Linked DNA regions of Homo sapiens: all the other regions are linked to region 4. Evidence: fine-mapped QTL for protein levels in blood plasma. A gene starts in region 4. Each other region holds a variant in brackets. All regions are shown on one strand. Distances are between the middles of the regions.

Region 1 (8,144 bases), 20 kb before region 4:
ATATCATCTGCCTGTACCTCCTTCCCAAGGAAACCACTATTCTAGTTTCTATCACCTTAGATTAGCTCTGCCTACCCTTAAACCTCATAGACATGGAGCTGTACAATATATCATTTTTTGCATGACATTTTTGCTTAGCAATCAACCCATGAGATTCACTCATGCCGTGTGTGGTAATAGTCTCTTCTTTTTGGTTGCTGTGTAGTAGTCCATTGTATGGCTATGCCACCATTTAGCTACTCTTCTATCCATGGACATTTGAGTTACTTGTAGCTATTGTGAATAAGGTGGATATGAACATTTTTGCATGTATCATTTGGGAGCCATAAGCTCTCACGTCTGTTGAGTATTTACTGAGAAGTAGAATTGGTGGGCCATAAAATGAGCATGTTTAGTTTGAATAGATACTGCCCAGTTGTTTTCCAAAGTGAGCTGTGCCAATCCCACCAATAGTGCATGGGAGCTGTAGTTGTGCTACATCCTCATCAATGTTGGTGTCAGTCATCCTGGTACATAGTAGCATCTGGGTATAGTTTTAATTTGCATTTAACTGATGATGAGTGAGATTAGGCACCTTCTTATGTGCTTATTGGCATTTAGATAGCCACCCGTTACTTTTGAGTCATAGTTTCCTTTACAATGGGGCAAAGGGATCACGCCTTTCTTTTTCTCTTAGTTTCCTTAAAAATTCACCCTTGTCAATTTATACTTAATTACACAAGTATTGTATGGATACATTTTCATTGTTTCTTCACACCCTTGCTAACATTGGATATCACCAGACCTTTAAAGTGAGAAGAGAAATCAGTCTTACTGGTATTTTAATGGAATGTGCATTTCTCCAATTATTAGTGAGATTAAGTATTTTTTCTTATGTTTTTTGGACACTTGTATTTCTTCCATGTATTGCCTTTTCACATCCTTTGCCAATTTTTAAAATCAGGTTATTTCTCTTCCTCATTGATTCTGGAAGTTTTTTATACAGTCTATATAGGAATCTGTTATCTGTTATATATTGTAAATACTTTCTTTTCTTCTGTTGATTGTATTTTTATGTATTTATTTATTTTTTTCACATAGGGTCTCACTTTTTGGCTCAGGCTGGAGTGCAGTGCATTAAACAATAAGCTCTAATTCCTCCCCCTCCCAGCCCCTTGTAACTTCTATTCTATTTACTGTCTTTAAGAATTTGCCTATTCGAGCTACCTCATATAAATGGAATCATACAATATTTGTCCTTTTGTGGATATTAATCTTTTCATTTATTTATAGATTCTTTGTTTTTGTTTTTGAGACAGGGTCTTGCTCTGTTACCCAGGCTGGAGTGCAGTGGTACGATCATGGCTCACTGCAGCCTTGGCCTCCTGGACCCCAGCAATCCTCCCACCTCAGCCTCCTGAGTAGTTGGGACCACAGATATACACCACAATACCTGATTAATTTTTAAAATTTTTTGTAGAGACAGGGTCTCCCCCCATTGCCCAGGCTGGCCTAAAACTCCTTGGGCTCAAGTGGTCCTCCCACAGTGTTGGGATTACAGGCCTGAGTCACTGCACCTGGCCTTGATTGTATTTTTAAAAGACTTTTTTTTGTTTAGAACTGTTTCAAACTTACAGAAAAATTGAGAAGATAGTACAGGGTGTTCCCATATACCCATGGCCAATGTTCCCTTTGTTAACATCTTGCACGAGTAGGGCACATTTGTTAGAAGGAATGAACCAGCACTGATACATGATCATCGTGTCTCCTTGGGCTCCTCTAGCTGTGACAGTTTCTTAGACTTTCCTTGTTTTTGGTGACCTTGATAGTTTTGAGAAGTACCGCTCAGATATTTTCCCAAATGCCTATTTATTAAATTTGTCTAATGTTTTTCTCTTGACTTGACTGGGGTTATGAGTTTTTGAGAGGAAGTCCACAGAAGTAAAGTGCTGCTTTCCTCACATCACATCAGAAGTACATATGATCAACATGATTGATCACCACTGATGTTGACCTTCATCACCTGGCTGAGGTCGTATGTGTCAGGGTCCTCCACTCTAAGGTTACTCTTCTCCCCCATTCCATACTGTCCTCTTAGGAAGGAAGTCACTATGCTTACTCCACATTTAATGAGTCAGGAGTTATGCCTCACCCCCTTGAGGCAGAGTATCTGCATAAATTATTTGAAATTTATCAGTCCAAGGGACTTGTCTCTCCTCCCCCATTTATTAATTTATTCAATCATTTATTTGCAATAGTGAGGACTCAGGGGTATTTATTTTATACTTTGAATGATAATCCAGCACTGCTTTATTTTGTTGCTCAAATTGTTCCAGCTTTGGCCGTTGGGAGCACTCTCAGTTGGCTCCTGTGTTTCTTTGATGTAGCTCCATTAATATGCATTTGTTTTTTGATTGTTTTTGAGTGCCTCCTTATTTTCTGGCACTACAAAATACTCCAGGCTCCTCTTGCATATTTCTGTCAGAGGCATAGAATTGGCCATTTCTCCAAGGAGCCCTGGTACCTTTCACTGGAGA[G/T]TGTTATTAGAAACCAAGGTCTGGGTGCTAGGTATGCTTTTTGCTACTGGGGTGCTGTTTCTTTTAGTCCTTCTCAGATGACAGAGCAAGGAAATATTCATGTGTATACTAACCTGTGAATATCACATATCTATACATATTTCTATATGGAATCTTCTGCCCCTGTATTAAGCTAGACATGAGTTCATACTGATGCCTCCAACTCCGCTCTGTTACCAAGTGGATCATTCTAGCCTCCTCCCCTGGCTTATCTGTAAACTTGCATTCCAACAGTGAGCAACCTGGCTTCTACCATCCGCCATTTGTTTAATTAATTTTCGATTTCAGTATGCACGTATCAGAATTGTTAATGCATATCCCCATGAGAACAAACTTTATTAAATAGAGTAAGGTACAAAACTCATATGAGAGAAGAGGCCTTGGTGACTGACCATAGATGGGGTTATCTTAGCCTGCTTGTGTTGTTATAAAAGAATACTTAAGGCTTGGTAATGTATAAAGAAAATAGGTTTACTTGGTTCATGGTTCTGCAGACTGTACAAAAAGCATAGGACCAATACCTGCTTCTGATGAGGGCCTCCGGCTGCTTCTACTCATGGTGGAAGGGAAAGGTGAACCACTGTGGGCAGATCACATGGGGAGAGAGGAGGCAAGAGGAGGGAGGAGGAGGTTCTACACTCTTCAACAACTAGCTCTTGAGGGAACTAAGAGTGAGAACTCACTCCCATGAGGATGGCAGCAAGCCATTCATGAGAGATATACTCCCATGACCCAAACCTCCCAGTGGGCCCTACCTCTGACATTGGGGATGAAATTTCAACATGATATTGTCTTTGGAGGGGAGGCCAAATATCCAAACCATAGCAATGAATCTTATTTGCAGCTGGCCTGTGTTGGTTCAGTGCTTAACTCCAGTGGTATTTGGGAGTCTGGTAAAGACCCTCAGCCAAAATATTAATTGATTGTTCTTGCTGGTGATTTATAAGATGCTGTTTAAAGTCCAGAACTCCCTGGGAGGCATGCTTCAGCAGTATGTCTATATTATTTCTTAAACATATGTAGATTGATGATTTGCATTTGGTTTACATGTTTACCCAGCCTGATTTAAGCTACGTAATGAGTGGGGTATACAAAATCCCTCTGTAAGCTGTGCCTTAGCTTCCCAAGACCAAGGGATTACACACATATCAAGAAGAAAGTGCTCTTTCTCATGATATAGAAATATTTCTTCATGTTACTGATAATGCAATAAAGTGTATATGCTTCTGAGTGATTTGCTAATGTGTATGTCAGCAACACATTCAGTATCCAGAATGGCTTGAAGTTATGCCTTCAGGGCCAAAAATAACATAATGTTAAATTCTGTAGATTCAATAACAGAATTTATTAAGAAATCTGCACTGTGAGGTAAATGATTAAACACTGACTCTTTCTCAACATTAGATAATTCTTTTTATTCATCAGAGAAATGTGATTTATGACACATTTAAAAGCATGTTTAAGGCCGGGCATGGTGGTGTATACCTGTAGTCTCAATTACGTGGGAGGCTAGGGTGGGAGGATTGCTTGAGCCTAGTAGTTCTAGGCTTCAGTGCGCCATGATCACACCTGTGAATAGCCACTGCACTCCAGCCTGGGCAACATAGCAAGATCCCATCTCTAAAAAGAAATTTTGTTTTAAAGCATGTTTAAAACATACATACACCAGCCTGGCCAACATAGTGAAACCCTGCCTCTACCAAAAATACAAAAATTAGCTGGGCGTGGTGGCACGTGCCTGTAATCTCAGCTACTCGGGAGGCTCAGGCAGGAGAATTCCTTGAACCCGGGAGACAGAGGTTGTGGTGAGCTGAAATTGTGCCACTGTGCTCCAGCCTGAGCAACAGAGGGAGACTCTGTCTCAAAAAACAAACAAACAAACAACAAAAAAACCATACATAGAAATGTTCCAGTAGAATACAAAGAACCACTTTCTAGAACTGAATGCACCAGAGAGGATTAGAAACCCACTTATTCTCTCCCAGCTTCAAGTATTTAACGTTCCTACTTTTGCACGTGGCAGCCTTGCTGACTCAGATCCGAGGGCGTTGAAAGACAGATTCACAATTTCTGGTCCATATTTGATGCAAATATTTAGAACTATCTAGCAGAGCTTGCTGCCTTTCCAACAATCCAGTTAGTGAATTGAGAATGTTCTCATTTAATAGAAATGAAAGGTAAACGAAGGATCCACCTGGCCATGGGACTGGAGGAATGACCCAAGCCATGCTTCATAGAGGCACAGATAGACACCCTCAGGGAAGCCGAGACCCTTTGAAAAAAGGGCCTGGTGTGTGTATTTTCACACTGCCCCCTGCTGGCTGACACTGGAACATTGATTCTTCCTGCTGACACTGGAACATTGATTCTCCTGTGGCTCTAAGACGACCTAACAGGATGAGGCCAGCGGGCCCCCCGCAAGGAAACTTGAGCTAGAGGCAGTTGGATTTGGCTGAGACGCTCTCCTCAGGGAAGGCCAGGTCTGGGAGTGGGTTTGAACAGCAGTGGAGAAATAACTTCCATAGGGCATGTCAGAGTAAGTTCTAGTGTTTCCAAGAGAATGGGACAGGATCTTAGTGGAATTTAGAAGCCAGGCAGGTGGAAAAGCATTGAGGACCCCATCCCAAGGGCTCGAGTCCCTAGAGACAGCCTGGAAAGATTGGGTGCCAGCTGCAGAGAGGAGAGCAAGGCGACCAAACGCAGGGTAAGGTCTGGAGGTGCTCATAGTTCACTACGGGACATGTACATGGAAGTGAATAATTATGTCACAAGGTGCCAAGGGGGCTAGTTACCTCACATAGGATCTTAGAAAAGGTCTCCTGGAGACCATGTCTGAGCTGGTCCTGAGGTGTGAGTAGGGATTCTCCGCAGGGCGGGGAAGGACTTGAAAGAGTCTGGCAATATGGAGCACATCAGGATTATGGAAGGTGAGCTTGGAGAACAAGGCAGAGTCTAGCCTGTGAAAGGCCTCTTGCAATTTGTTGAGGATCCATGACCTTCTCCCATGCATGGTGAAATGCCCTTAAAGGATTTTGAATAGATTTAAAAGACACTCAAAAACAAAAAACGGTAGATTCAAAATAGACGGTAGGGATCGCTTTCTTCCGTTTTCTTTGAAGGATCAGAAGTGTTTACCACCACCTGGATTGTTTTTGGGCTTTCAGGTGAGTGGGAAAACAAAGAAATTCATGCCTGATCATGTTGAGCCACTTATATAATGTTGCTTTGACACTAATGGAGATGTAACTTCTTTTAAGACATAATAGAATCTCCTAAGTGGGTGTGGGAGTCGTAAGAAGGAGGAATCTGGGCTTCTACAAGCAAGATAGCATGTATTCATTTATTCAGTCAGTCAGTCGCTGGATCGATGCGCTTAGCTTTGTGCTCTGTGCTGGGTGCTGTGTGGGATATAAAAGAAGGTGAGGCCGGGTGCGGTGGCTCATGCCTGTAATCCCAGCACTTTGGGAGGCCAAGGCAGGTAAATCATGAGGTCAGGAGATCGAGACCGTCCTGGCCAACATGGTGAAACCCTGTCTCTACTAAAAATACAAAAATTAGCTGGGCGTGGTGGTGTGTGCCTGTAATTCAGCTGCCTGGGAGGCTGAGGCAGGAGAATAGCTTGAACCAGGGAGTCGGAGGTTGCAGTGAGCAGAGATTGCACCACCGCACTCCAGCCTGGCAACAGACGAGACTCCGTCTCAAAAAAAAAAAAAAAAAAAAGAAGCTGAAATTCCAGCTCTTATCCCCCAAGGAATCTGTACATCTGTACTCTGCTTGGGAATCCACAGAAGAAGGAAAGAATGCCAGCAAAGTAAGATCATGCTGCATGACCTCAAGATAGATGTTAAGGACATTTTGATGGGATAAAGGGAATCTTTGCTAGTTCAGAGATGAGCTTTACTGGCTTTGAGCTAAGTGATAGACATAAGTGGGTGGAGTGCAACTGGGGAGAATTTCAGGCCTGGGTAAGGGCCAAGTGTGAATGGATGGTCTCATGTAGGAAGCCATCAGGATAGGCATAGCAAATCCAGGAGTCCTCTAACGATGGAAGGAAGACCTTTGCTGATGTAGGAATCGCATTGCAGGTCAGTACTCCTCAGTGAACCTGGAGACCCTGTTGCTTCCTGTTCCCTACCTCAAGGCACTCAGTCTTACAACTTTGGGCTACCTCTCTGAGACAGTAGACTCTGGAGATACTAGCCATATCTTCATCTTTAACATTCACTCAAGATGAGCTGATAAAGCACCTCTTTCATGAAATAGCCCTATAATTTCTATGATTAGAAGTTGAAACTACTCTCATCACATCTTTTGATGTTTATATGAACACTCTTCTGTTAAAAAAAAGATTGCCCTAGTTTTTAGGGCTAATATTAGATGTTTCTGGCATATTCTTTACAAAGCCTTCAAACTAAGTTATGGTATAATATTTGCAATTAGAAAAACAAATACCCAAGGCATGTTTAGAGGTATTTATATGTTTTCTGGTGTCAATTGGAGGTGGAGAGGCCACCAGTGCTCTGAATCCACAAGCTAAGATGAGCTACTTGTTAGGCTTGGCTGTTTGGAATTGTCTGTTCTTTGCAAAAAGCAGACGAAATGAAGTTATGGTAGTTAGTGGGATGAGTGGGCCACCCAGAAAAGTCAAAGTTCAGGTTGGACTCATTTTCTCATGTATTTAAGTGTCTTTGCCATTTGTTTACCTTCTCCTGTGCCTCCACCTCTCATCATTAGGAGATGGGACCAGCATGCTCGGAAGCCCACTCAGCCTATGCACTCAGCAGGTTGGAACTATTAGGGAAGTATAGCCTTTGGGAGCTGTCCTTAACCAATGATGGACAGATCTTGGTGTATAAATTCCCCAGCTCCCTCGCCCTGCAGGCAGCATAACCCTGAGGAATATGTTCTACTCTGGCATCCAGGGGCCTCCCAAGCAGAGTGAAGCTCCGGTTGCCCATGCAATAAACATGCTAACACAGCCTTTTTGGGCTACCTTCCCTTCCCTTTTTCCATTCCCCACTTGCAGCATTTGCAGGGATCACCTCCCGAATAAACCACTTGTACATGAATCCTTGACTTGGCATCTAGTTCTTGGTGAATCCAGCCTCAGGCAATGAGTAACTCACATAGAGACGGCCTGCTATCTAAGTATAAGCGAAGATGAAGGAAGACTCTATTTTCTTTGGACCTGATCAAGTTTATTTACAATCTTCATTTTATTTTTATTATTTATTTATTTATTTATTTACTTATTTATTTATTTATTTAATTGAGACTGAGACTTGCTCTGTTGCCCAGGCTGGAGTGCAGTGGTGTGATCTCGGCTCACTGCAACCTCCACCTCCCAGATTCAAGTGATTCTCCTGCCTCAGCCTCCGGAGTAGCTGAAATTACAGGTGTGTGCCACTACACCCAGCTAATTTTTTGTATTTTTGTATTTTTATGGGGTTTCACCATGTTGGACAGGCTTGTCTCGAACTCCTGCCCTCAAGTGATCCACCAACCTTGGCCTCCCAAAGTGCTGGGATTACAGATGTGAGCCACCACGCCCGGCCTACAATCTCGATGTTAGACTTCACTTATTTTCTT
Region 2 (8,144 bases), 110 kb after region 4:
CCTCCTTCGCTCTGCACTTCTCCTTGCTGCTGCCACATGAAGAAGGACATGTTTGCTTCCTCTTCCACAATGATTGTAAGTTTCCTGAGGCCTCCCCAGCCCTGCTGAACTTTGAGTCAATTAAACCTCTTTCCTTTACAAAAATACACAGTCTTGGGTATGTCTTTATTAGTAGTGTGAGAACAGACTAATACAGAAGGAACGCTCTACAGAGAGGCCAAGAGGAATCTAACAGACAGCCTTCATGGGTTTCCCCACTCAGCCTATTAACATTAGATCTTATCCTCTTTGTCCCCTTATATTTCTACATAGCTGCCCGTAGTTTGTTGAACCTAAGCATAAAAATGGCCAGTTTCCCTATATCTTTGGGTCTTCATTTTGAAGGCTCCTGGGTGATACAAACTATGACCAAATAAGTTTGTTTGTCTTTTCTCCTAATGAATCTGCCTTCTGTCAGTTGATTTTCAGTGAACCTTCAGAGGGCAAAGGGGACATTTTCCCTAGGCCCCTGCAAGGCCGAAATTGGAATGGTGTATCTGTAAGCCAAGGAACTCCAAGGATTGCTGGTTGTTACCAGAAGTGTGGAGCAAATTCTCCCAGAGTCCTGAGAAAGATCAACCCTGCCGGCACCTTGATTTCAGACTTCTAGCCTCCAGAGCTGTAAGGGAGTAACTCTATGTTGTTTTAAGCAACAAAATAGTTTGTGGTACTTTGTTACAGTAGCTTTAGGAAATTAGTACAATTGGGAACTAGTGACCTGGTATGCTTAAACATGGGAGAGACAAACAGACATACAAGATGCATCACAAACTCAAAGTCAGGACAACCCGTTTTCTAGGCACACATTCCCATAATGGGACAGAGAACTGAGAGCAAAGTCTAGGAGGTGTAGAGACTGGTCTGGAAGCACCTGGATGCTTGGTTTCAACTGCCTGCCCTTGAGTGGGCCACATGGCAACAAGCATCTCCCCGTAACAATGATGGACTAAGGTCAGATACTCCCTTCTGTTGGCTGGGCAAACAGCAACCCTTACATTACAAATGGTTGGGATGAAATATTTACCCAAATGACATTGCTCAGTGTGGGGTTGTGGCATAAGGCAGCTATCTCATTTATTAAAGCTGATTTACATGGACTGATTTTGGCTTCCACAAAGAAACCATGAGGTCCTAACTGTAGTACCTCCAAATGTGACCTTATTTGGAAACAGGGTCACTGAAGATGTAATTAAGTTATGAAAGTTACTTTGGAAAGTAACTTCAAATGAAGAAGTAGGGCAGGAAAAATGTGTCCCCTAACCACCATCAAAAACAGGAGAATGTACATGTATTTCATCCGTTACATTTTTTTCCACAAGTATTTTTGCTTTGAATCCTCACTTTAGAAACTGTTTCTCCTGAAAGCTAGGTGGCATTTCAGGGTCACTCTCTGCTAACAGGTGAAGGCCTGTCACAATTTATTACTATTTCAGTTAAAAGATTCACTCAAATAAATCACAGAGATTCTTAAAGTTGCTACAGAATCAGGGCACTTTTTGGGTTCTAACTTGGAGGGAGGAATTCAAGACCACAGACCCCACTTTGATGTAAGCATTTACACAGAACTTGGATCTGACTCAGAAAATTTTAGGACCACCTGGGGCAGATGGAAGAAAGTATTTAATGAGCACCTACTGTGTTCCAGGACCCATGGTAGGTGCATTTCACGGAAATCACATCTGTTACCCTGTGGTCCTGTGGCAGAGACATACAAAGGGGGTCGTTTCAAATGGAAAACATCTAGTTAGTCTGCAATGATCCAAACAAAAATTTTAAAAGAACACGATAGTTCCTTCTCTTAGAAGCCCAAAATCCACTTTCTTGGAGTCTAATGAAATGAGCCCTTTTTTTTTGGAAATGCAGTGACTCCAGGGTCTCCAGGCAGGAATAAATCTTGGCTCTGAGTAGATCTTTCATCCCCTGTAATGAATTCCTCAGGCCCTGCCAGTCCGAGAGCAGCAACGGCTCCCTGAGAGGCCTGTTCTCAGGACAGAGTTTCATTGTATTCAACACTGTGATCTTCCTGCCAAAAATTAATCCCACAAGCCACATCTTGAACAACACCCCCACCCCCACGCAGTCTGAGCCTCCCTCAGACTTTTGAATTTGAAGAAGTTGGAAAGATTTGGAAAGCGGGGGTTACTTTCTTAAGCAGGACAGATGCATTGAGACCACCTTGCCAATCATAAATAGAAGACTGGCTTCAGTTCCTCGGTCATAATTAAGCAAAACCACAATTGTTTCTCAACAAGCCCCTGACTGTTGTGTTCTCTGTCCAGGTGGCCGGATCACAAGACCCCAGGTACTTTTAAGGAAGTGGACTGGTCATGTGTGTGTCCTCTATATCATCCTTTTTGGCTCTCATTGTCGTTGTGTGATTAGTTACGGTATCATGACAAGACCTGGGGAGAGCGAGGTCACCTTCTGAGATAAAACACTCAGCAAGTGCCCCCCAGTGGTGGTGGTGGTGGTGGTTTTTAATTGACAAATAATAGCTGTATATATTTACAGGTTGCACTGTGGCTAGAGGACATTATGCTAAGTGAAATAAGCCTCCGGCAGTTGCTAGAACAGGTGAGGCTCTGCGGGTTCTCAAATAACAGTTACTATTTATATGTCCCTGAAGAGTCTTCCGGATTTGGGAGCTGCGGGTGAACGGTATGAGCAATCGTAAAAAATCTGAGCAGCTGCAACTTCCACCTTGCCTGGGCCTGGCTCCATCCTGCAATATCTCCCTCCCAACCTCTCTCCTTTATCTGTCCCCCATCCCTCCCCATGCCAGAGTTAGGGGCTTTGCATGATACTGTTCTGCCTAGTGCTTGCTTTGCTGTTAAACTTCAGTCAACCTGAATCGCTGAATCCCTGGAGAAATCGAGTGGTTAAAATCTCAACATGGGAATTTTAGGTCCTTGTCAATCACATTCTAATTTTGACCTGGGCAGGTGTGATGCGTGGGTCCTTCTCTCCCTCTGCCCCACCCAGATACATCATCCCAAACTAGCACCAGGCTGACACCCACTCAAATACCTCTAAAGTTACATAATTGTCTAAATATAAAATCCAGACTCTCTGGCCTGGCATTCAAACTTGCCTACTCCCAGCCCTTCCCCAGAAGACACCCTAACGTACCTTCCAATGGTCTTTCCCACTTATTATTTATTTATTTATTTATTTATTTATTTATTTATTTATTTATTTATTTTTGTTAGCCGGAGTCTCGCTCTGTCACCCAGGCTGGAGTACAGTGGCGTGATCTTGGCTCACTGCAACCTCCGCCTCCCGGGTTCAAGTGATTTTCCTGCCTCGGCCTCCGAGTAGCTGGGACTACAGGCACCCGCCACCACGATCGGCTAATTTTTGTATTTTTAAAGAGACGGGGTTTCACCCTGTTGGCCAGGCTGGTCTCGAACTCCTAAACTCCTGA[C/A]CTCAAGTAATCCACCCACCTCGGCCTCCCAAAGTGCTGGGATTACAGGCATGAGCCACCACGCCTGGCCCCACTTACTCTTTATTTTTGAAAATCACACTGCTTTTTCAAAAGTTACGAGAGACATGTTAGTTGCCAAACCCAAAGCACTAAGTTCTAGCCTCTGTACTGATTGGTGCCAGGCACCTGCTGGCCTCTCCTGCTTTCCTAAACATCTCCCTGCCTTTCCTCCCACTCCACCATGCTCTCCTGGCTCTTTAAAAGCAGCTCCACTCTGTTGCCTTTTCTCTAACCCCTCTTCCTTCTTCTGTTCATTTAACTTGGATTTCATAAGAATCCTAATGACCCTAGCTGCCATTCCCTGGGCTCTGCCCTGGTGCCAGGCATTGAAATCAGGGCTTTACACACACAATCTTATTTAATTCTCATCATTGCCCTGTATGGGAGTTTCTATCATTATGCCCAATTTACAGATTAAGAAATTAAGGCTCAGAGAGATTCAGCAATCTACCCAAGGTCACACAGCTAGTTAGTGACAGAGCGGGGCTCAAACTCAGGTATGACACCATAGCTGTGGTGTTCATTACCACCCTGGAGGCTGTTTGGCCTCCTTTCCTCTCCCCACTCCTCCTGTCCAGTTTCTTCTCCTCTTTTCCTCCCTCTACTCCCCTCCCCTCTTCTCTCCACTTGCAGTCCTCTTCCCTTTGGAAATCTCATGGATCTTGGAGCTTTGCACTGCTGCCTGAATGACCTCCCCTCAAAGCTCAACCTTCAGCCTCCATTTATTGCTTGAGCTCCAAACGCATCCCCATATTTACAGCTTTCTGATGATCACCTCTTCCTTCGTGAGCCTTGTAGGTCCGAAGATAGCCCCTCACCTCCTCTCTCCTGCCTTGCCCCAAGACCCTGCTTTCCTAGCCAGCATCACTCTCCTCCTGCTCACCTAGACTCAAGGCCTCTCTTTCCCTTGGGTCACCTTTCCCTCCCCACCCCCACCCAGTTCACACACCTCACTGGTCCTTCCCTTCCGCCTCTCAGTGGCTCAAATGTCTTTCTTCCCCTCCATCCCACCTCCATTTGGCTATGTCAGGCGTGGGTACCGCTTATTTCCATCACTGCAAGGGCCTTTGGTTTTAGAGCCTGTTTTCCTAACTCACATAGCGATGTCAAGTAACTTTCCATGAGCTGGAGCTCAGATTGAATTCATAAAAGCTAACTCTTACCTAACATGAAATGGCAGGCCCTATTGCAAGGGCCTTACCCACTCAGTCCTCACAACAACCCTAGGAGGTAGGTACTGTTGTTATCCCCATTTTGCAGGTGGGAAACTGAGGCTCAGAGAGGCATGGTCACTTGTCCTAGATTCCACAGCTAATAGGTGGCAGTTCTGGTATCTGAATCCAGGCAGCCCAACACCAAAATGCCTGCACATAACCACTACTCCCAACTGGCTCATGTCACACCCCTGCTCAAAACATTCAGTGGCTCCCCATGGCCATTCTTGAGGCCGCCAGCTCTGTGATGGATAGTATCTGTGTGCCTGGAGGGACAGAACTGGCTCTTGGAGGAGTTTGCATTGTGCCAGCCCTAGACATTGTGCATCAGTGGCATAGGCAGAGGGGTTCTTGCAATTTGCCAACCAGCCAAGTGAATCGATTGTCCTCAGTGGGGTCCTGTTCCCAGAAGGGGCAGCAAGCGAGGGAGGGAGACACAGATAAGTTGTCCATTTCACATTTATCTCAGGGAGTGAGAGTTGAGATAGGGTCTCCTCGTACCACTGGTGTGGACAGAAAGAGCAACAGGGCAACAATGAACACTGGTGGTGGCCCTGGGGAATTTGGCCTTGCAGGGTGAAGTAATCATAATGTATGTTGCTTTTTAAAGGGGTGCCCAAGGAGCGCCCTGTCCTCAGACCTCCCTCGCTCAGGGATGTTTACCTGGAAGAACGAGAGGGCCCGATAACAAAGACATTGGGTTCTCGCCTCCAGGCCTCGAGACTGACTCTGTCCTAGCTGCTGTATCTTCAGGGGCTGAGGATGTTGAGAAAGTCAGAGGGAGGTTACCCAGGATAAGATAGAAGGCTCCAGACTACACAAGCCCTATTCTTTTAGAGTGAGCGGTGCAGAGTCCACGCATGAAGGTTTAGAGGCAGATCTGTGGTCCCTGAAGGAGGGATGAGTGTCCAGCTAGGACCCTTAGTGCTGGGGAGATTTCTGGGGGAAATCTCAGGGTGCGTTTTGCAAAGGACCCACCTTCTCTGGCATGAATGCCTGCTGTCAGAAGAGCTTGCTGTCTTTGGGTATCCATAAGCAGGGTCCATTCCCAGCCATGGCCCCTGTCCCCCAAGCCCAGTGACAGGGTCAAAACATCCACATCCTCAGGGAGGGCCTAACACAAATGAGAAGGACTGGCTGGAGGAGCAGTGGGTGCAGGGATTCCTGAGACATCATTGGCTCAGTGTGGCCAAGGGAGGCCTCAGAAGATGTTTTACATTTTTATTTTCTTTCTTTCTTTCTTTCTTCCTTTCTTTCTTTCTTTCTTTCTTTCTTTCTTTCTTTCTTTCTTTCTTTCTTTCTTTCTTTCTTTCTCTTTCTTTCTTTCTTTTTCTTTCCTTCCTTCCTTCCTTTCTTTCTTTCTTTTTCTTTCTTTCTTCTCCTTCCTTCCTTCCTTCCTTCCTTCCTTTCTTCCTTCCTTTCTCTTTCTTTCTGTTTTTTCTTTCTTTCTGTTTTTTCTTTCTTAGACCAAGTCTTGCTCTGTTGCCCAGGCTGGAGTACAGTGGCATGATCTCAGCTCACTGCAACCTCCATCTCCCCGGTTCAAGCAATTCTCCTGTCTCAGCCTCCCGAGTAGCTGGGACTACAAGTACACACCACCATGCCTGGCTAATTTTTGTATTTTTAGTAGAGACAAGGTTTCACCATATTGGTCAGGCTGGTCTCGAACTCCTGACCTCAGTGACCCACCCACCTCAGCCTCCCGAAGTGCTGGGATTACAGGCATGAGCCACCACACCCAGCCTAATTTCATTTTTTGATTGAGGTGAAATTCACATAACATAAAACTAACCATTTTAAGGTGTACAATCCCATGGTGCTTAGTACATCCACAAGGTTATGCAACCACTACCTCCATCTATAAAGGTTTTGAGGCTCCCTAGCAGGGCCAGGGCAGGTGCAGGAGCTGCTGCTGAGGGAAGGGAGCGAGGTTGTCTGCACGGGGAGTGAGAGGCAGGCCTCGGAGGATCTAGTAGACATGGCTTGGAAGAGGAATCCAGATGTGGGGTGGGTAAGAGTCACAGCCTTGAGTGCGGAGAGGTTGCTGAGGGAGAGCAACCAAGGCAAGTAAGAAGACCTCCAGCGGAAGCCAAGAGCCCCTTATGTTAATGGGAGGAGGAAATGGGCCAGGGCCAGAGGCTGCCAGCCTTCCACACAGGCCCAGGGAGGTGTGCTTTGAGACCAGCCTTTCTTCCCTCTGTTGTGGCCTGAGAAGTGTTGGGGGAGGAGGGTGCCAACTGGTGGAGGGAATTTCTCAGCTGCTAGGGATGGCTGGGCTACTTCCTGCCAAGGTCCTTTCTTCTTCTCTATTTCCCCAGCTATAGGGGACCCCACCACTGACTTCATTCTTCAAACTTTCTTTGAACAGGGATGCGCTTTGTAAGCCCTGCAGAACAACAGTAGTCCCGGTAGTTCTTGCAGTCAGGAGACCTGCACCTGCCCCAGGTGTCGGACTTTGAGGTTCCTAACTGGCGTTTCCCCCAGGGTGCGAGGGGCCCATCAGCCCAGAGCACATCTGGCCAGAGCTTGCCCTCTTCCTTCTGCCCCTGCTCTGGGTGCCTGGGATGCTAGAATTCCCAGCCCCAAAGCCTTAAGCATGCTTTCCAGGACCTGCCATGGCTGCCTCCCAGGGCCTGTCCTCCCAAGGGGCCAGCACTATCCTTGTGCACAGCCCTCGGCCCGAGGGGGCCCAAGGGTCAGCGTTCTTGTGGAGGGTGTGGATAGAGCTGGGATGTGCAAATTGGGGTATCTTTTGTGCGGTGCCCCTCAGAGGTTGGATGAGGGAAGTGGGCAGCTGGGGGCTTCTCCCCGGGCTGCCGTGTCCTGGTGTGGAATTCTGAGAGTCCAGCAGCCTTGCAGGGCTTCATGAGGGTGTATTTGTTAATGGAGGAGGATAGACATGTTTTATTTAATAGTCTGTTAGGTGTGTTTATCATTGTAATTATCTAGATATGTGGTAACTGCTCACTGATCATCTCGCCCTGTGCCCTGTCCATGTCAGGAGGGGCCCTGCCTGCAACCTCCTCACCAGGCTAGACTGTGATGGTTCCAGGCATGATTTTGAATGTGTTTCTTCACCTTAGAGCCTGCAATATGGTGATAGGGAATCCTTTCTTAGAAGAACAAACCTGCATGATGAGCTCGGTAAGTGATAGTTTGGTCAACCTTCCTAGCTCCTCCATCACTCCCTTGTACAGCACCTTTGTTGGAGGGCCAGGAATACAGACTTGTGTGTGTGTGTGTACGTGTGTGTGTGCATGTGTGTGTGCACATGCATGTGTGTGTGTATGCATGCATGTATGAGTGTGAACAGTTTCCCCCACTTTCGCCTAGGAACCCATTGTGTGTGCTCACATGGTGATAAGCCCTTGTGAAATCTCTAGAAATCCTCATCCAGCCTCAGGCTT
Region 3 (8,144 bases), 29 kb before region 4:
TGTGAAAATGACCATACTACCAGAAGTAATCTACAAATTCAACTCAATCGGCATCAAATAGCACCATCATTCTTCACAGAATTAGAAAAAACAATTCTAAAATTCATATGGAACCAAAAAAGAGCACACATAGCCAAAGTAAGACTAAGCAAAAAGAACAAATCTGGAGGCATCACACTACCTGATTTCAAACTATACTCTAAGGCCATAGTCACCAAAACAGCGTGGTACTGGCATAAAAATAGGCACATAGACCAATAGAATAGAATAAAGAACCCAGAAATAAACCCAAATACTTACACCAACTGGTTGTCGACAAAGCAAACAAAAACATGCAGTGGGGAAAGGACACCCTTTTCAACAAATGGTGTTGGGATAATTGGCAAGCCATTTGTAGGAGAATGAAACTGGATCCCTATCTCTCACTTTATACAAAAATCAACTCAAGATGGATTAAGGACTTAAACCTAAGATCTGAAACTATAAAAATTCTAGAAGATAACATTGGAAAAACCCTTCTAGACACTGGCTTAGGCAAGTATTTCATGACCAAGAACCCAAAAGCAAATGCAATAAAAACAGAGATAAATAGCTGGGACCTAACTAAACTAAAGAGCGTTTGCACAGCAAAAGGAACAGTCAGCAGAGTAAACAGACAACCCACAGAGTGGGAAAAAACAATCTATACATCTGACAAAGGACTAATATCCAGAATCTACAATGAACTCAAACAAATCAGTAAGAAAAAAACATGGCCAAGGACATGAATAGACAATTCTCAAAAGAAGATATACAACTGGCCAGCAAACATGTAAAAAAATGCTCAATATCACTAATGATCAGGGAAATGCAAATAAAAACCACAGAGCAATACCACCTTACTCCTGCAAGAATGGCCATAATAAAAAAATCAAAAAAACAGTAGTGTTGGTGTGAATGCAGCGATCAGGAAACACTTCTACACTGCTGGTGGGAATGTAAACTAGTACAGCCACTATGGAAAACAGTGTGGAGATTCCTTAAAGAGCTAAAAGTAGAACTACCATTTGATCCAGCAATCCCACTACTGGGTATCTACCCAGAGGAAAAGAAGTCATTCTTCGAAACAGATACTTGTACACGTATTTTTAAAGCAGCACAATTCACAATTGCAAAATCGTGGAACCAACCCAAATGCCTATTAATCAATGAGTGGATAAAGAAACCGTAGTACATATATATGATGGAATACTACACAGCCATAAGAAGGAATGAATTAACAGCATTTGCAGTGACCTGGATGAGATTGGAGACTATTATTCTAAGTGATGTAACTCAGGAATGGAAAATCAAACATCGTATGTTCTCATTGATATGTGGGAGCTAAGCTGTGAGGACGAAAAGGCAAAAGAATAATATAATGGACTTTGAGGACTTGGGTGGAAGAGTGGGAGGTGGGTGAGGGATAAAAGGCTACAAATATGGTGCAGTGTATACTGCTCACGTGATGGTTGCACCACTCACAAATCACCACTAAAAAACTTAATCATGTAATGGCCGGGTGTGGTGGCTCACACCTGTAATCCCAGCACTTTGGGAAATCAAGGAGGGTGGATCATGAGGTCAGGGTTCGAGACCAACCTGACCAACATGGTGAAACCCCATCTCTACTAAAGATACAAAAATTAGCTGGGCGTGGTGGCAGGCACCTGTAGTCCCAGCTACTCAGGAGGCTGAGGCAGGAGAATGGCATGAACCCGGGAGGCGGAGGTTGCAGTGAGCCGAGATCGCACCACTGCACTCCAGCCTGGGTGACACAGTGAGACTCCGTCTCAAAAAAAAAAAAACAAAAAAAAAAACTTCCTCGTGTAACCAAACACCACCTGTACCCCAATACCCCAATAACTTATGGAAAAATGAAAATTTAAAAAATGCGTGTATTTTTATTTTTATTTTTATTTTGAGAGACATGGTCTCTCTCTGTCACTCAAGATGGAGTGCAGTGGAGTGATCATAGTTTACTGCAGCCTTGGACTCCTAGGCTCAGCCTTGAACTCCTGGGCTCAGCCTTGAACTCCTAGGCTCAGCCTTGAACTCCTGGGATCAGGTGATCCTCCTGCCTCAGTGTCCCAAAGTGCTGGGATTTCAGGTGTGAGCCATTGCCCCTGATCTAAATGCATCTAAAATAATTTAGAGAAGTGCCTTGGTGGGGACCATGCAAGTGGCAGAAATGATTATTTTTTTCAGTATTTTTTTCAGTTTTACTTAGACTAAAACTGTCACAAAAATCCTAAGAGGCTTAAGCGTGAGTGCAAAAAAAAAAAAAAAAAAAAAAAAAGATGAAGATAGTCCTGTTACACAAGTGCAAGAGGGTGAGAAGATGAACCATTAAAATGAATGATATTTAAAAGTACATGTATGTAATGTTATACATAAGCATCAGCACATATTGAGAATGCTCACTGAGTGGGTGTCCAACCTGAAAAGTTTGGAGAACACTGCTTCTGAACCTGGATGAGGACCAGCGAGCCTCAGCACAGGTGTGGGCTTCCTTTTGCTCCTCTCCTTTGATTTACTCTACTGCCCTTTGGGTTGGTAAGGACCTCAGAGGTCAACAGCCTTGTCCAAAGTTACACTGGTGCTCATTGGCCAAGCCAGGACTCTTCACTCCAAAGGCAGCTCCCAGCTGCTTTCCTGTCTGCCCCATTCTTCTTGGAGGTATGAAGAGGGACCCCAACAACCTTTGCACCTTGTCCACTGGTTACCTTCTGCAGCCCCCACCCCCTTAAAGAATAAGCAGGTTTTGGACAAGGGGAATTTGGAGCTGGGTCCTGCTCTGAATTTCATCAGTTCTGTTGTGTCCATAGTAGAGAATGCCTCACATGGTCCTTGTCCCAGTCAGGGCCATGTTCATGGGCTTTTTCTTCTGCCCTGGATTGGGAAGTGGCTGTTGTAGTCCTTAGGACCATGTCCAAGCAATTGCTAACAAGTAGGTGTGAAGTTGCCCATTGATTAATAAAAGACTCCATCGTTAAGCAAAAGTTTGTCTATATCTGAGTCCATATTCAACAAAAGCCATATCTGAGTCCAGGTGCAGTGGTTCATGCCTGTAATCCCAGTGCTTTGGGAGGCCGAAGTGGGCGGATCACCTAAGTTCAGAAATTTGAGACCAGCCTGGCCAACATGGTGAAACCCCATCTCTACTAAAAATACAAAAATCAGCTGTGTGTGGTGGTGGGCGCCTGTAATCCCAGCTACTTGGGAGGCTGAGGCAGGGGAATCACTTGAGCTCAGGAGGCAGATGTTGCAGTGAGCCGAGATCACACCACTGCACTCCAGCTTGGGCAACAGAGCTAAAAAATAATAATAATAAAAAAATTAAAAAGCCATATCTGAAAAGCCAATTGCTGTCATGATGGTTTTATAGGACAATTGTCATCTAGAGGTAACACATGGGCTTCCAGTCTAGGAGTTCATTCAATGTATAATAAAGGGCCCCAACCATGTTGGCTCATGCCTGTAATGCCAGCAGTTTGAGAGGTGGAGGTAGGAGGATTGCTTGAGCCCAGAAGTTCAAGGTTTCAGTAAGCCGTGTTTGCGGCAGTGCACTCCAGCCTGAGTAAAAGAGTGAGACTCTGTCTCTAAAAAAAACACAACAAAACAAAAGTATAATAAGGGACTTGTTGAGCATCTGTCACATGTCAGGTACTGTTCTAGGTGCTGTGGATACCAGGTTCCTGCTTGCTCATTCTAGTGGAGAGTGGAGAAACAAAAATATTCATCATGAATCACAAATCGTGGCAGTTGAATGACTGCCCACATTTTTTTATCCATCCTCCCTGTGGACACAGGCCTGCCTGGCCTCACTATGGATGGAGGGCATTTCCCCACTCTTTGAGTTTGGGCTTGATCACAAGGATATGCTTTGGCCCATAAAATGTGGTAGAAAGGATGTTGTGTCTGTTTTGAGCCTAGGCCTTGAGAGAGCCTAGGCCTTGAGAGAGTTCACATCTTTCTGCTTGCTCTATTGTTCCTCTGTTATTACCATGAGAAAAACGGGCCCAGTCTCATCCCAGCAGGAGGTTGAGAGACATGTGGAACAGAACGGCCTCCCCTGACCCACAGCCCTTCCATGAGGAGCACAGGTGCCCAGCTGAACCCCAGCCAACCTGCAGTTGTGAGTGATAATGAATGCCTGTTGTTTTTAACCATGGAGTTTTGAGGTGGCTTGTTACACAGCGATAGCTGACTGATACAAGAAGAGAATGGCGAACTGGAAACAGATAATGATGCAGTAGCAGAAGGAGCCTACTTTAGAGAGAATGGCCTGGAGAAGCCTGGTGAGGAGCTGACATTTAGGCTGAGATCTGAAGTTTGAGAAGGAGCTTGTCACGTAATGCAGGGAAGGGAGTGGAAACAGACAAAGGTCCTGAGGCTAGAAGGAACTTGTTGTGTTTCAGGAACTGACAGAGAAACTGCATGGCTGAAACAGAGTTTGTCAGGGAAATAGGGGTCTAGTGACCTTGTAGAAAGGCACAGGGCTTTTGAAGCCAGTGCAAGAGTTTGGATTCTATTTAGGTACAATGGGAAGTTTTTGAAAAGTTTTAAGGAGAGAGGGTGAGTCAGATTTTAGACTTTTAATAGATTATTTCTGTTCCTGTGAATGGAAGCAGGAACATCAGTTAGGAGGCTGTCGTAGACATCCAGATGAAAGATGATGGTAGTGAGTAGAAGTTGCTGAGAACTGGATTAATAATGCATTTTTGAGTGGGTATCATAGGATCTCAAGATTTCTGGCTTGGAGCGTGATGGAAAACTATGTCAGTTACCAATTCCTTTCCCCCAAAAAGCCATCCCTGGAAATCTAATGGAGAGAAAGGAAGGTAGATGGTGGGTTGGGCATGTGGCATTTGACTGTGAGCACACATACTGCATCAGTGCAGTAACTCATATTGTGGAGCACTCACTATGTTCTAAGCACTGCATTAAACACTTGGCATTCTCATACCAACTCCATGAAGCAGGTCAAGATCTCTACCTTACAGATCAGGAAACAGAGAGACCACGAGGATAAGTGACTTTCTCAAAGTCACACACAGCTGGTAAGAGAAGCAAAGTGTTCTGGGGCCTGGCACAGTCTCTGTCATGGCCATGCCCCAGAGGAGTGCCTCAGGTATCTGAATGGTGTTGCAGTTTGCCGTTGCAAGGCTTTCAGTTCTGAGCAATGGCCCCCAGTACTGTGGCACCAGAGCTTGGATACCTGGATGCTCAAGGCCCCTGAGTCCCTCTCGTGTGTAGGCTCATGGCATAAACCTTTCGGAGTCCTTGTCTACATATTCCTGGCCCCAACTTGCAAGCTTAGCTTTGCTCCCAGCTATGGATGGTGGCTGATGCACTTAAGAAACCTCTTTCTTGGTTAACACATGATTCCCCAGACTTAACATCTGCTTTTCAACAAGAGTTTTAAAGCAAATGGAAAAAAAATCTTGTCTTTTGGACCCAAAGTTTTAAGTCCCCTTTGAGATCTGGGAAGTCAAATTCTCGGGCTAGTGCCTGGTTTGATGGTGACGGGCATGGGAGTCTCTTGCATTTTTTAGGCATATTCCCGGGAATGGCTTTCTTCCCCCACTCCAACACAATGAGCTCTCAGGCCAGCTGTAACATCTCTC[C/T]AGGGGTCCTCTGATTTTCCTCCTTCTCTTTGTTCAGTCAGTTTCCTTTCCTGCCAGCTCCCATTCTTCCCACCAGCAGGAAGAGAGGACAAAACCCGGAGCCAAAGCTTCCTTCAGCTGGCCCGCACCATGCCCTGGACAGCTCTGAGACATGCAGAGAACAATGGAGCCCTGGAGAGCCTGGGGCCGGCTTCCTCTGGACAATCTTCATCCTCACCTGATGTTTTTGCTGAAGTCACTTTGCTCTCATGGAAAGGTGTTGGCAGTTGTGCCTTGGGGGGTGAGGTTTCCCTGTGTCCATATGGAGAGGGACCTTGTGTGCTAAGAAAGGGGAGGAAAGTTCGTGAACTTGAAATTCTCAGTATACTGCATCCCTGGTTCTTCGATCCCCCAAACAAGAGGGCAGAGCTCAAGGCCAGCCAGGTCTTGCCTTTCCCTGGCCTGTACCTAGAGACGAAGGTCCCGGCCCATATGGCCTCAGCCCAGGCTGGAGGCCAGTGCAGAGGCTCCTGCCTCTCTCTGCCTGAGTTCTTTCTCTGGTGTGCTTGGAGCCACCCTTACCCTGTGAGGCAGGGCTGTTGGTCAATAAAGGCTCCAGCTCCCTTGCTACTTGGTGGGCAGATTCTGAGGTGTGTCCTGTGGTGTCTCAGTGGGTCCCCAGGGTGGGTGGCACAGTGCTCCTCCCCACACTTCCCATCTCCCTTCTCCCTTCCCCATGTGCTCCCATGCAAAGCACTTGCATTCAAATCCTTGTCTCAGGCTGTGCTTCTGGGGAAAACCCAATCTTGGAAAAGTGCTGCTAGAGATCTTGTTTCTACTGGTAGTTATAGAGGGCAGGGGATGGTCATTTTGAGTGACAAGAACAAGTTGAACATCATAGAGATTTCCTTCAAGAATGAACAAAGCGTGGCTGGGGACAGTGGCTCATGCCTATAATCCCAGCACTGACTGGGAGGCTGAGGCGGGCGAGTCCCTTGAACCCAGGAGTTTGAGACCACCCTGGGCAACATAGTGAGACCCCATTTCTACAAAAGACAAGGAAAGAAAGAAAAAAGAGCAAAGTAGTTTGTAGCTCCAGTGGAACAGCCTGCTTCTTGCTTTTTAAATTTTTATTGAAGTATCACTTCCATGCAAGGAAGCGCACACATTTTAACTGTATAATTCAGTGAAATTTTCCATGTGTCTATGACTAGGTAGCTACCACCTGGAACAGGATGCATTTTGAACACCCTTGAAGTCTTCCTTGTTTCTCTTCCGAGATGAGGACCATCCTCTACCAGTATTTGAGCTTCCATCTCTATGGATTAGCTTTGCCTTCTCTTGAATTTCATTCAATGAAATTTTGGTTTTCTGGGGCCACTGTAACACATAACCACAAAGCATGTGGCTTAAAACAACCGAAACTGATGCTTTCAGAATTCTGGAGTTTGGAAGTCTGAAATCAAGGGGTCAGCAGGGCTGTGCTTCCCCTGAAGGGTCTAGGGGAGGATCCTTTCCTGCCTCTTCCTAGCTCCTGGTGGCTCCTGGCAGTCCTGGGTGTACCTTGACTTGTAGTGAAATCATTCTCCAATATCTGTCTCCATTATCACATGGCCTCATTCTCTGTGTCCTCTCCTCTTGTTATAAGAACCCCATTCATTAGATTCAGGACACATCCTAATTCAGGGTGGCCTCATCTTAATTTAGTTACATCTGCAAAGACCCCACTTCCAAGTACAGTCCCAATCTGAGATTCTAGGTGGATGTGAGTTTTGGGGAGATGCTATTCAACACCCTATGGAAATCATACAGCGCATGCCCTTGTGTCTGGCTTCTTTGGCATCATGTGTGGGCTCATCCATGCTATTGCACGGGGCAGCTGTTCACTCCTTTTCTTCCTGTGGAGTGTTCCATTGAGTGTCTATGCCACAAATTATGCATTTAGCCTGCTGTTGATGGACTTCACCTTGTTTCCAAAACGCGGCTATGATGACAGACCTGCTGTGGACATTGTTGTCTGTCTTTGGGTTGACCTAACACCCTTTCCCATAGGTCTTTACCTAGGACTGGAGCTGACAGCCTGTCTTTGCAGGTTGGTAATTAAACTCTGCAGGATTTTGGGGCTCCATTAGCCATTTCTGTCAGTGGGTGGAGGGAGAATCCACGTTGGGTGCATATTTGAATGAGCTGTTCCTCCCAGACTCCTGACTGGTGAAGGTCAGGGGAGGGGACTCCGGGCAGCTCCAGATCCCACTTGATCGTTCAGCATCTGAGGAAGACGCCCAGAGAAGGAGCCTCTCCCAGAGCTGCAGTGAGCCCTTTTCAGCAGGGGCAACTGGGCCCTCTCCTTAGCCAGGCGTGGCTGAGGTCTTATGGGAACCTGCAGTGCCTCACTGAGAGGAGAAGGTGCCCTAGATGTTCTCTTCCTAAAAGGATGTGGTAAATAGAACAACTTGGGGACTGAGCAGTCAGCGGGACTGGCGTCTTGACCAATAAGTAGAAAACATGATTGCAGAC
Region 4 (8,144 bases):
TAAGAGTTGTTGGGAAGTACTGTGAAGCAGGTGGCGCAGTGCCTGATGTGTTCTTCTCATCAAGCATTTACTACTAATCTAGTGTGCCAGACGCTCTGCTAGGGGCTGAGAATGGAGTGACGGAGAAGCCACAGTCCCCCATCTATCAGAACGCAGGCACATACCAGGGCGCATACGTGAGAGCGGCATTTGCAGTGCGAGTGCATCGCCGCTCCTGGGCACCTTCAGAACACGCGTGGGTTTGGGGGAGAAGAGCTGGGTCACTTGCCAGGATTTGCTCGCTGCTGCACTCTGTACTGCCAGCCTCCTGGCAAGCTTATTTCACCGTGAGCCAGATCAAAGCCAGAAGGCAGAGGAGCACTGGCTGGTGCATGGTGACCCGAAGTCCTGCGCCCCTCTCCAACCAAAACTCGCAATGCTTGAGGGAGCAGAGCTCCTGGACCAGCCGCCAGAGCACCTGCTGGTGGAGCTTGTTGTCTGGCTTCTGGAACTCCCCCTGGTTCGCCGCCTGGGTGGCATTGATGCAGCCGGTGACAAATGCCTCCTTGGTCACATTAGCCTCAGAGCAGCCGTTGTAGTGGATGCCATCGGGGAACTGCCAGTAGTTGGCCTCGTAGTACCTGTTGCCCTCGGCTCCGAAGTCAATGTCGAGCTTGCGGCCTTGCTTGATGAAGGCTCCCGGGCGGTTCTCAGCCACCTGGGCCTCAGTGATCTGGGCAGTGCTGGGCAGGGCCTTCCGGTTCCACTTGATTCTGTGCTTGATGCCCCTCGTCTGGACCGCAGAGAGGTGGCTGAAGAGCAGCATGCAGACAGTGGCCAGCCACCACCAGCTCAGGTGCTTCCTCATCGCGTCAGAACCTGCCAGAGAAACGGCGGTGGGTCAGCTCCCCACCAGGCCTGCCTGGGCTCCCCTGCCCCCTCCCAAGTGCAGGAGATTTTAAGGAAGGAATCGCATCCTTGTGCTATTTATGTGGTCTCAAAAGCATAATTGTTTCCCCATGTTTGGGTTGTGCAGGGTTAACTCAAACACCGAGCTCCTTTGCTATTGCTAGGATTACATTCACTCAGGGCTCTGGTCCCGGTTTCCGAGACAGGTAAGAATGGCAAAGGGCAATTATAGTGGCTTTGAATACGCATGGGAAAATAAAGGAGTGGTGACTTAATACATGTAGGTTTTCTTTGATACTCCCAAGTCTTTCAAATCAAGAAATCCCTGGGAGGAAAATACAATAGAAGAGTTGGAATCAAATGCTGGTGGGCATGGACTATATGTGTGTGTGTGTGTGTGTGTGTATACACGTATATATATACACATATATATGTATATATACACGTATATACACACACATATATACATATATACACACATATATGTATATATACACACATATATATATACGTATATGTACAGACACACACACATACACACACACACACACACACACACACACACACACACATATTTTAGAGACAGGATCTCACTCTGTTGCCCAGGCTGGAGTGCAGTGGCATGATCATAGCTCATTGCAGCCCTGAACTCCTGGGCTCAAGCAATCCTCTTGCCTCAGCCTCCGGAGTAGCTGGGACTACAGGCACACACTACCACACCCAGCTAATTTTTAAATACATGTTGTAGAAACGGGGTCTCACTATGTTGCCCAGGCTCAAGTGATCCTCCCACCTCAGCCTCCCAAAGTGCTGAGATTACAGGCACGAGCCACTGTGCCGACTTTAGATTGTACTTTCAATCTCCCCTCTTTGTTCTTTATTGCTCTGAGCTGGCACTGTCTTGGGGGCATTCTGCCATCCATTCTGAGGAATTCACTGGCTGCTGATCCTAAAGGGCTTTGCAGTAATGAGAGAGAGAGGAGGAGGAAGGAAGGGAAAGATGGAAACGTAGCAAAGGGACCCCTGCCTCCCCTATGTCCAGGGGTCAAGTGTGCTCCAGGCATCCTTTCCAATCTCACCCCTGGGGGACAGTGTGACCATCTGCTTATCCTACTGGCTTTTTATTGCATACTTTCTTCATGCCTGCCACCGTGTTAAGCTCTTCTCTGACATTGCCTAACTTAATTCTCACATAGAGTAGGTACATTATTATCCCCATGTTATAAATGTTGTCCTGGGATTCAGAGAAGTTAAGTAATTTGCCCAAGGCTGCACAGCGGGGAGGTGGCAGACCTGCACTGGGCTCTGTCTAATGCTGCACTGCATGTGTCCACTAGCCATGCCCCACTGCCCATCTGGGTTTCAGGAGAAGACAGTGCTCACACACTGTGCTTTTCACTCACTGGGTATGATGCCCCCTGAGCTGGGCAAAGGGCAAAGGGCAGGGCCCTTGAGGAATTTCGGAGAAAACGAGATGAAAGGGAAGACAGGAGGGCCTGGGGGAACACCAGGAGGGTCCCGGGTCAAGGTGGCCCTGGGACATCCGAAGGGCTGCCACTGATGTCATGGAAAAGCCCCTCACCCCACACCTTAAGGTTGCCTGTCACATTCGGCTCCTGAATCTACAATAGCCATCAAGGAAATCCACTTCCCAAGGCCGACTGTCAGGGCATTCTAGCACCTGGGTCTTTGCCTGTGTGGATTAGGGAAATGGAAGGAGTTCCCATACCGGAGCTTGCCTAAGCTGTCTCCTAGGCAAAGACTTACTGTGAGGCCATGGGGCCCCAGAGCTGGAGGAGGCTGACAGGGAGCTTGTTTCGCCCCTCACACACCCTCCACCACCCTGCTGCAGCTTCCCTAAAAGTGGCTAATGTTCCTCTGATAAAATGTTCAACTCTGATGCCACATTGCTCCTTATATTAAAAAAAAAAGGCAAAACACAGCTGAAGTGATCTCTAGAAGCACATCCAGTCATCTCTAGAAGCCTGCAAAGAGGCCTCACTGACCTTTCCTTGCTTGTAGACATCGCCTCGTCTTTGTCCCAGGGTGGCTATGAGCATCTGGACCCCCTCACCCCACTCTCTCTGCCTCCTGAGCACAGTGAACTCAGACTGACTTTCTCCAAAGAGATCCAAGCATGAAGCAAATATTCATTAGTCTCCTAAATAGGGCCATACTCCACATCATTCCTTTTTTAAGGAGAAATCTTAAATAAGATTAATGGCATAATAGATCATTTCAGGTGAGTCAAATAAAAAAAATAAAAGCACAGCATTCTTGAGAAAGAGATTAGTTTTCATAGGCAGAAGCTTAAAGGCAAAACAAAATCCCAACCCACAAACCCTAAAGTAGCATTTTATTATAGCACCAACTTAGAGAAAGGCAAGCCCAGTGATGACTGGGTATCCTCGCAAGTCTACCCTGAACTTGGGACCCATCCCCAGGTGTGGGAGTAAAGAAATCATTGCATGATTTTCAATCTGGGATCGAGCCTTGATAAGAAACCAGCAGTCCTGACCACAGAAGTGGCCCCCCACGTACCTTGGCTCTCTCTGGAGTGTGCCTCTGGAGCCTCGAGCTGCACAGTCCCCCAGCACACCCTCTTGGCAGCCAGGTCCGCCCAGCTATATAGGAGCTGCCGGGGGAGGTGGCATTCCTGCAGGTCTCCAAATAAGGCAGCCCTTCCCTCCCCGGCAGACCAATCAGGGCTTCCTGGACCACTCCTTCATCCTGAGAAGGATGGACCTTCTCATCACACTTTACTAAGGAAACCACGTGAAAATCTTGATGAAGTTCAGCAAGGCTTCAGAGGTGCCTTTTAGAATTGGAATGAGATGTGTTAGAAGGAAAATGCTTTTCCCATCAATATCTATGACAGATGTGGCTTCAACAAGCCTCGCTGGACATGCATAGTGTCCTGTACCTAAAGGCCGGCCTTGGACAGCAAAGCAGTCTTTGCTGACAGCCTCTGTGGGGAGGTTCAGCTCAAAAAGAGGGCAAGCGTTCACCTGGACCACCACGCCCTGAGGATGGGACCAACAGGGTGTGTGTGTGGTGGTGGGGGGGGGGGGCGCCGGGGGGCGGTTACACTTTCATCGGGTAGTGGGAAAACAGAACTGGTAGGTATGGGGTGGAAGACACGTGAGAAGACTTCCTGGCATGTTGGGCGAGGAATGCTTGAAGGACTGAATTAGCCCAAAGGCCAATAAGTTAAAGATCTGCGGGAACCCCGGGAGCAGAGACACATTGACACGCAGCCAGTCCCCTGGACAGGTGGTGCGGGCTGAGGGCGAGTTCTGCAGAGTGCCTTCTCCTCTACATGGTGTCCGAGCGCTGCGCAGAAGGGGCTGGAGGTGCATTCCTGGGCTTTCCAAAGCAAGAGACTCATTGGTATTGGGTGACCATTTTGGGCCTTATACAGAAGGGACTTGCTCAGGTGTCCCTGTTACAGTTAGTACTGCAAGGCAAAGTCAAAAGTGAATATGGGAGCAAGTATGGGGCCAGATTTTCCTGTAAACAGAATGCGATTTTTATGCTGAATGTGACCCCGTCAGTGTTCACGGTGGATTTGCGTCAGAGCAATTTTGCAAACCAAATTAAACGGTTGTTATCGAGAAGGACAGCAGATAGCGCCAGAGAGCTGACAAAGACCGCAGCCGGTCGGTGGGAAACCCGGGCTTCTGGGCTCTGGGTGGATTTGGGGCCTCCGGTTGGGCCTTTCTTTCTCCTCTGACTTTAACATTTGTTTCACTTCCCCACTTTTTTTTTTTTAAGAACTTTTCTATTTCCTTTCTAGAACCACAGACTTTTTGTGCTTCTGAATACACACAAAACAGAAACACAGTAGTGTAATCTTAGTACAGACTGTTTGCAAAATGGAGATGAAAAAATCAAAATCTCCTAATAGTTCAGTACCCAGAGACAAATGTCAGGACAATTTTGTTTCACATATAGATACTTAGGGCCACAGTGTTTAGAGCTAGAAAGGACTCAGAATTCTGTGGTCCAGCTCCTTTGCATGGTGAGCTCACAGGCCCAGATAGGCTCAAGGTCACCCAGCCAGGCCGGCAGTGCAGCCTCGGCAGGCTCGTTGTCCCATTGTGAACTCTGTGCACTATCCCCCTGCCTGTTCCCACTAGACACAATCATCTCCAACCCCCTCCACCCCTCTTCTTCCTATTCCCTTTCTAAGCAGGACTTTACCCAGAGAATGGTGGGAGGTTGGTTTAGAGCTGACGTGGCAGCAGATTCCTCTTGTTAGTGAACAAAAGGCTGTTTACAAAGGCACAGAGGAATGGGGAAGACTGAAATTGCTACAGAAGCAGGGAGGAGCTCTGGAAGCTGCAAACAAGGCAAGAAAACAATAAGCAGATGTGGAGAATGTGGAGCCGACCCAATGCTGCCTCGCATCCTCCCTCCCTGCCTGTAAAGATCGACAAACAGACCAAGGAATTAGTGTGAGAACATTCATTTCTTCAAAAGAACTGAGAGACCAGGGCCAAGTGAATTACACTATGTTACATAAAGTGGATTATATTATATAGTCTGGGAAATAGAACTGTGTGTAGATCATCTTTGAGAAAGCAGGAAGAATGAGATGGAGACCACAGATCTGGGTGTTCTATGATGCAGGGGTCTATGACATAGTTCTCTAGATCGCGTAAATAATAGAAAATTATGCCAGTTTCTAAAAACGCAACAGGGAATGGCTGAATTCTAGAATGCATGAATGGGTCATTATTTGATCAATTTCCAGCTTTGATTAGACCTTGGACCAGTTTGAGAGCATTTATAGGTGAATACAGTGATCGTTTGGATATAACCTAGCAGGCCAAATTAACTATACCAGGGAGATTACTGTTTGGCAAGATTACCAACCATATTTGTGCCAGGAAAAGAAGAACACAAGAAGGATAAGCCAGGTTCCATTGCTGGCCCATGGCCTAATGGTAGAGAAATCGCTGAAATGTGATTTGGAAAATAATACTTATTTAGCTGTGTAGCTACCTAAACAGCTGTTACAGTCTGAATGCTTGTGTCCCTCAACAACTCATATGTTGAAATTCTCACCCCCGAGGTAATGGTAATGGAGGTGGATCTTTGGGAGGTGATTAGGTCATATGGGTGAAGCCCTTATGATTGGGATTAGTGCCCTTATAATAGAGGCCTGAGAGTACTCCCTTGTCCCTTCTGCCATGTGGGCACACAGTGAAAGATGGCCATCTATGAACCACAAAGTGGGTTCTCACCAGACACCCAATCTGCTGGCACCTTGATCTTGGACTTGCCAGCCTCCAGAACAGTGAGAAATAAATGTGTGGTGTTTATAAGCCACCCAGTTTATGATATTTTATTATAGCAACCTGAATGGACTAAGACAATAGACATACTTAATTTTTTCTTTTTATTCAAGTCTGAGATCCACACAAAGGTGCACATATTTGCAATGTCCAGCATTATGGTTTTTTTTTTTTTTTAGATGGAGTCTCACTCTGTCACCCAGGCTGGAGTGCGGTGGCGCCATCTCGGCTCACTGCAACCCCCGGCTTCCAGGTTCAAGCGATTCTCCTGCCTCAGCCTCCCGAGTAGCTGAGACCACAGGCATGGGCTACCACACTCGGCCAATTTTTTGTATTTTTAGTAGAGATGGGGTTTCACCGTGTTAGCCAGGATGGTCTGGATCTCCTGATCTCGTGATCCACCCGCCTCGGCCTCCCAAAGTGCTGGGATTACAGGCATGAGCCACCACACCCGGCCCAGCATTATGTATTTTTACAAACCAAATACACCATTGTAACCTGCACCTAGATTAGGAAACTGAGCATGACAGCACACTCCAAGCTCCTCATGGCCTCTTCACGCCACAATTCCCTCCCCTATGCTGACCACTTTTCTGAGTCCCATGCCATAGATTAGTTTTGCCTGGTTTTGTATTTCATATACATAGAATTATATAGAATATAATCTTCTGTGTCTGTGTTTTGCTCGAATTACGTATTTGAGGTTCACCCACATTGTGTGTAGTTATAGATCATTCATTCCATTGTAAGAATATTCCACAACCTACTTATCCATTTCCCTGTTGATGGACATTTGGGCGGTTTCTCATTTGGGATCTTATGAATAGTGTTGTCATGAATATTCCTGCATGTTCTTCTTGGTGCCCATATTTCTGTTGAATATATACTCAGGAGTAGATTTGCTGGGTCATAGAATATGCCTATTTTTCAGCTTTTACTATTTTAGAATTTGGACTATGGCTTTTTTAAAATCTTAAATTCACCCTCCTTTACGGTTTGCCCACTCTTCTGCTCCCAAACCCAGCCGCGAGTCTCCATGTGGTTCCTTTGCCACTTGGCACAGAGCCTATTACTGTAGTCACCGGAGCCTCCCATTCACACATTCTGCTGAGCTCATAGAAGTTGAAGGACTGTGTTTCATTCACATGTGTTTGCCTGGCACCTAGCACAGTGCCTGGAATCTAGATGCATCTAGATTCCCTTTATCCCTTGTTGATCGGTGACGGTCCACATCGCAGTTGGTTGGAATACACAAAAGCAGCAAGAGCAAATTTTACAGGGATAAGGGAGACAGTTTTACAGTTGTTGCGGTTGTCTTTTAAATCAAGGGCAGCATGTTGAAGACCCGTCATGGTGGTAGTTGAGATTCTGTGGTATAGAGTTGTTTAGAAGCAGAAAATGAGCCCAGAGGGTGGCCACAGCTTGGAGAAGCAAATGCTGTGCTAATCCATGGATCATTTCCCCTGCAGTTCTCTGCCCTTCCCGGTCAGAGTGCAGTTAGTGTTTGGAACTTGGCTGTGAGCAATTGACTCAGGGCAGGGATTGGGGTGGAGTATGGGGAGGATGGGAGGGAGGTGAGGAAGGGTGGGAGATGAGGAAGAGCAGTGGTCCTTCTGGCTCAGCCGGGACCACTGAAGCAGTTCTTCCTCTCGTGCGGGAATCACCCAGTGTATGTGGGACAGGATGTTTGTAGGTGAGAAGGTAGAAGATGGGGAGCCACTGAAGGCTTAGGGCAGGTACAGGATGAAGGCTGTGTTTTAAGGTGATCTGTCTCTCGGGTTGTCCAGAAAGGAGAGGCCCAGGAAAGGGCAGAAACTCCCACCTGCAGACCCAAAGAAGGGCAAAGAATGCCAGACTCAGCCACCACCGAGTTCCTCATTTAGCCTCCCCATCACTTTGCTCCTCGTCTGCGATGTTTTTAAAAGCATAATTAACCTGATAAGTTGGTCTGCAGTT

Direction of the effects. Alleles are on the strand shown, and positions count from the first base shown. The strength of an association depends on the size of the effect and on how common the allele is.
For the plasma level of the protein whose gene starts at base 3,490 in region 4, G is the high allele of the variant in region 1 and T is the other (moderate association).
As copies of C replace A in region 2, the plasma level of the protein whose gene starts at base 3,490 in region 4 goes down (weak association).
For the plasma level of the protein whose gene starts at base 3,490 in region 4, C is the high allele of the variant in region 3 and T is the other (weak association).

The links. PIP is the posterior inclusion probability: the model's chance that the variant is causal. The UK Biobank Pharma Proteomics Project read protein levels with antibody pairs (Olink). The fine-mapping took linkage between variants from a reference panel, not from the people measured, so its PIPs are less certain.
Region 1: its variant is fine-mapped to the plasma level of the PRND protein (UK Biobank, PIP 0.97).
Region 2: its variant is fine-mapped to the plasma level of the PRND protein (UK Biobank, PIP 0.91).
Region 3: its variant is fine-mapped to the plasma level of the PRND protein (UK Biobank, PIP 0.94).

What each region holds. Positions count from the first base shown.
Region 1 is chr20:4,737,715-4,745,858 of GRCh38, reverse strand. PRNT (prion locus lncRNA, testis expressed) reads left to right here and starts at 5,191. Exons shown (of 2, transcript NR_024269.1): 1 at 5,191-5,259. The variant G/T (reference allele first, on the strand shown) is at 2,517.
Region 2 is chr20:4,608,350-4,616,493 of GRCh38, reverse strand. No RefSeq gene overlaps it. Among named protein-coding and RNA genes, the nearest start is that of PRNP, 74 kb to the left of the region's middle. The variant C/A (reference allele first, on the strand shown) is at 3,464.
Region 3 is chr20:4,746,605-4,754,748 of GRCh38, reverse strand. No RefSeq gene overlaps it. Among named protein-coding and RNA genes, the nearest start is that of PRNT, 10 kb to the right of the region's middle. RefSeq lists a silencer at 5,592-5,886. The variant C/T (reference allele first, on the strand shown) is at 5,649.
Region 4 is chr20:4,717,255-4,725,398 of GRCh38, reverse strand. It overlaps PRND (prion like protein doppel), which reads right to left and starts at 3,490. Exons shown (of 2, transcript NM_012409.4): 1 at 3,430-3,490; 2 at 1-858. The coding sequence starts at 847. The coding sequence ends at 317. RefSeq lists an enhancer at 4,568-4,787.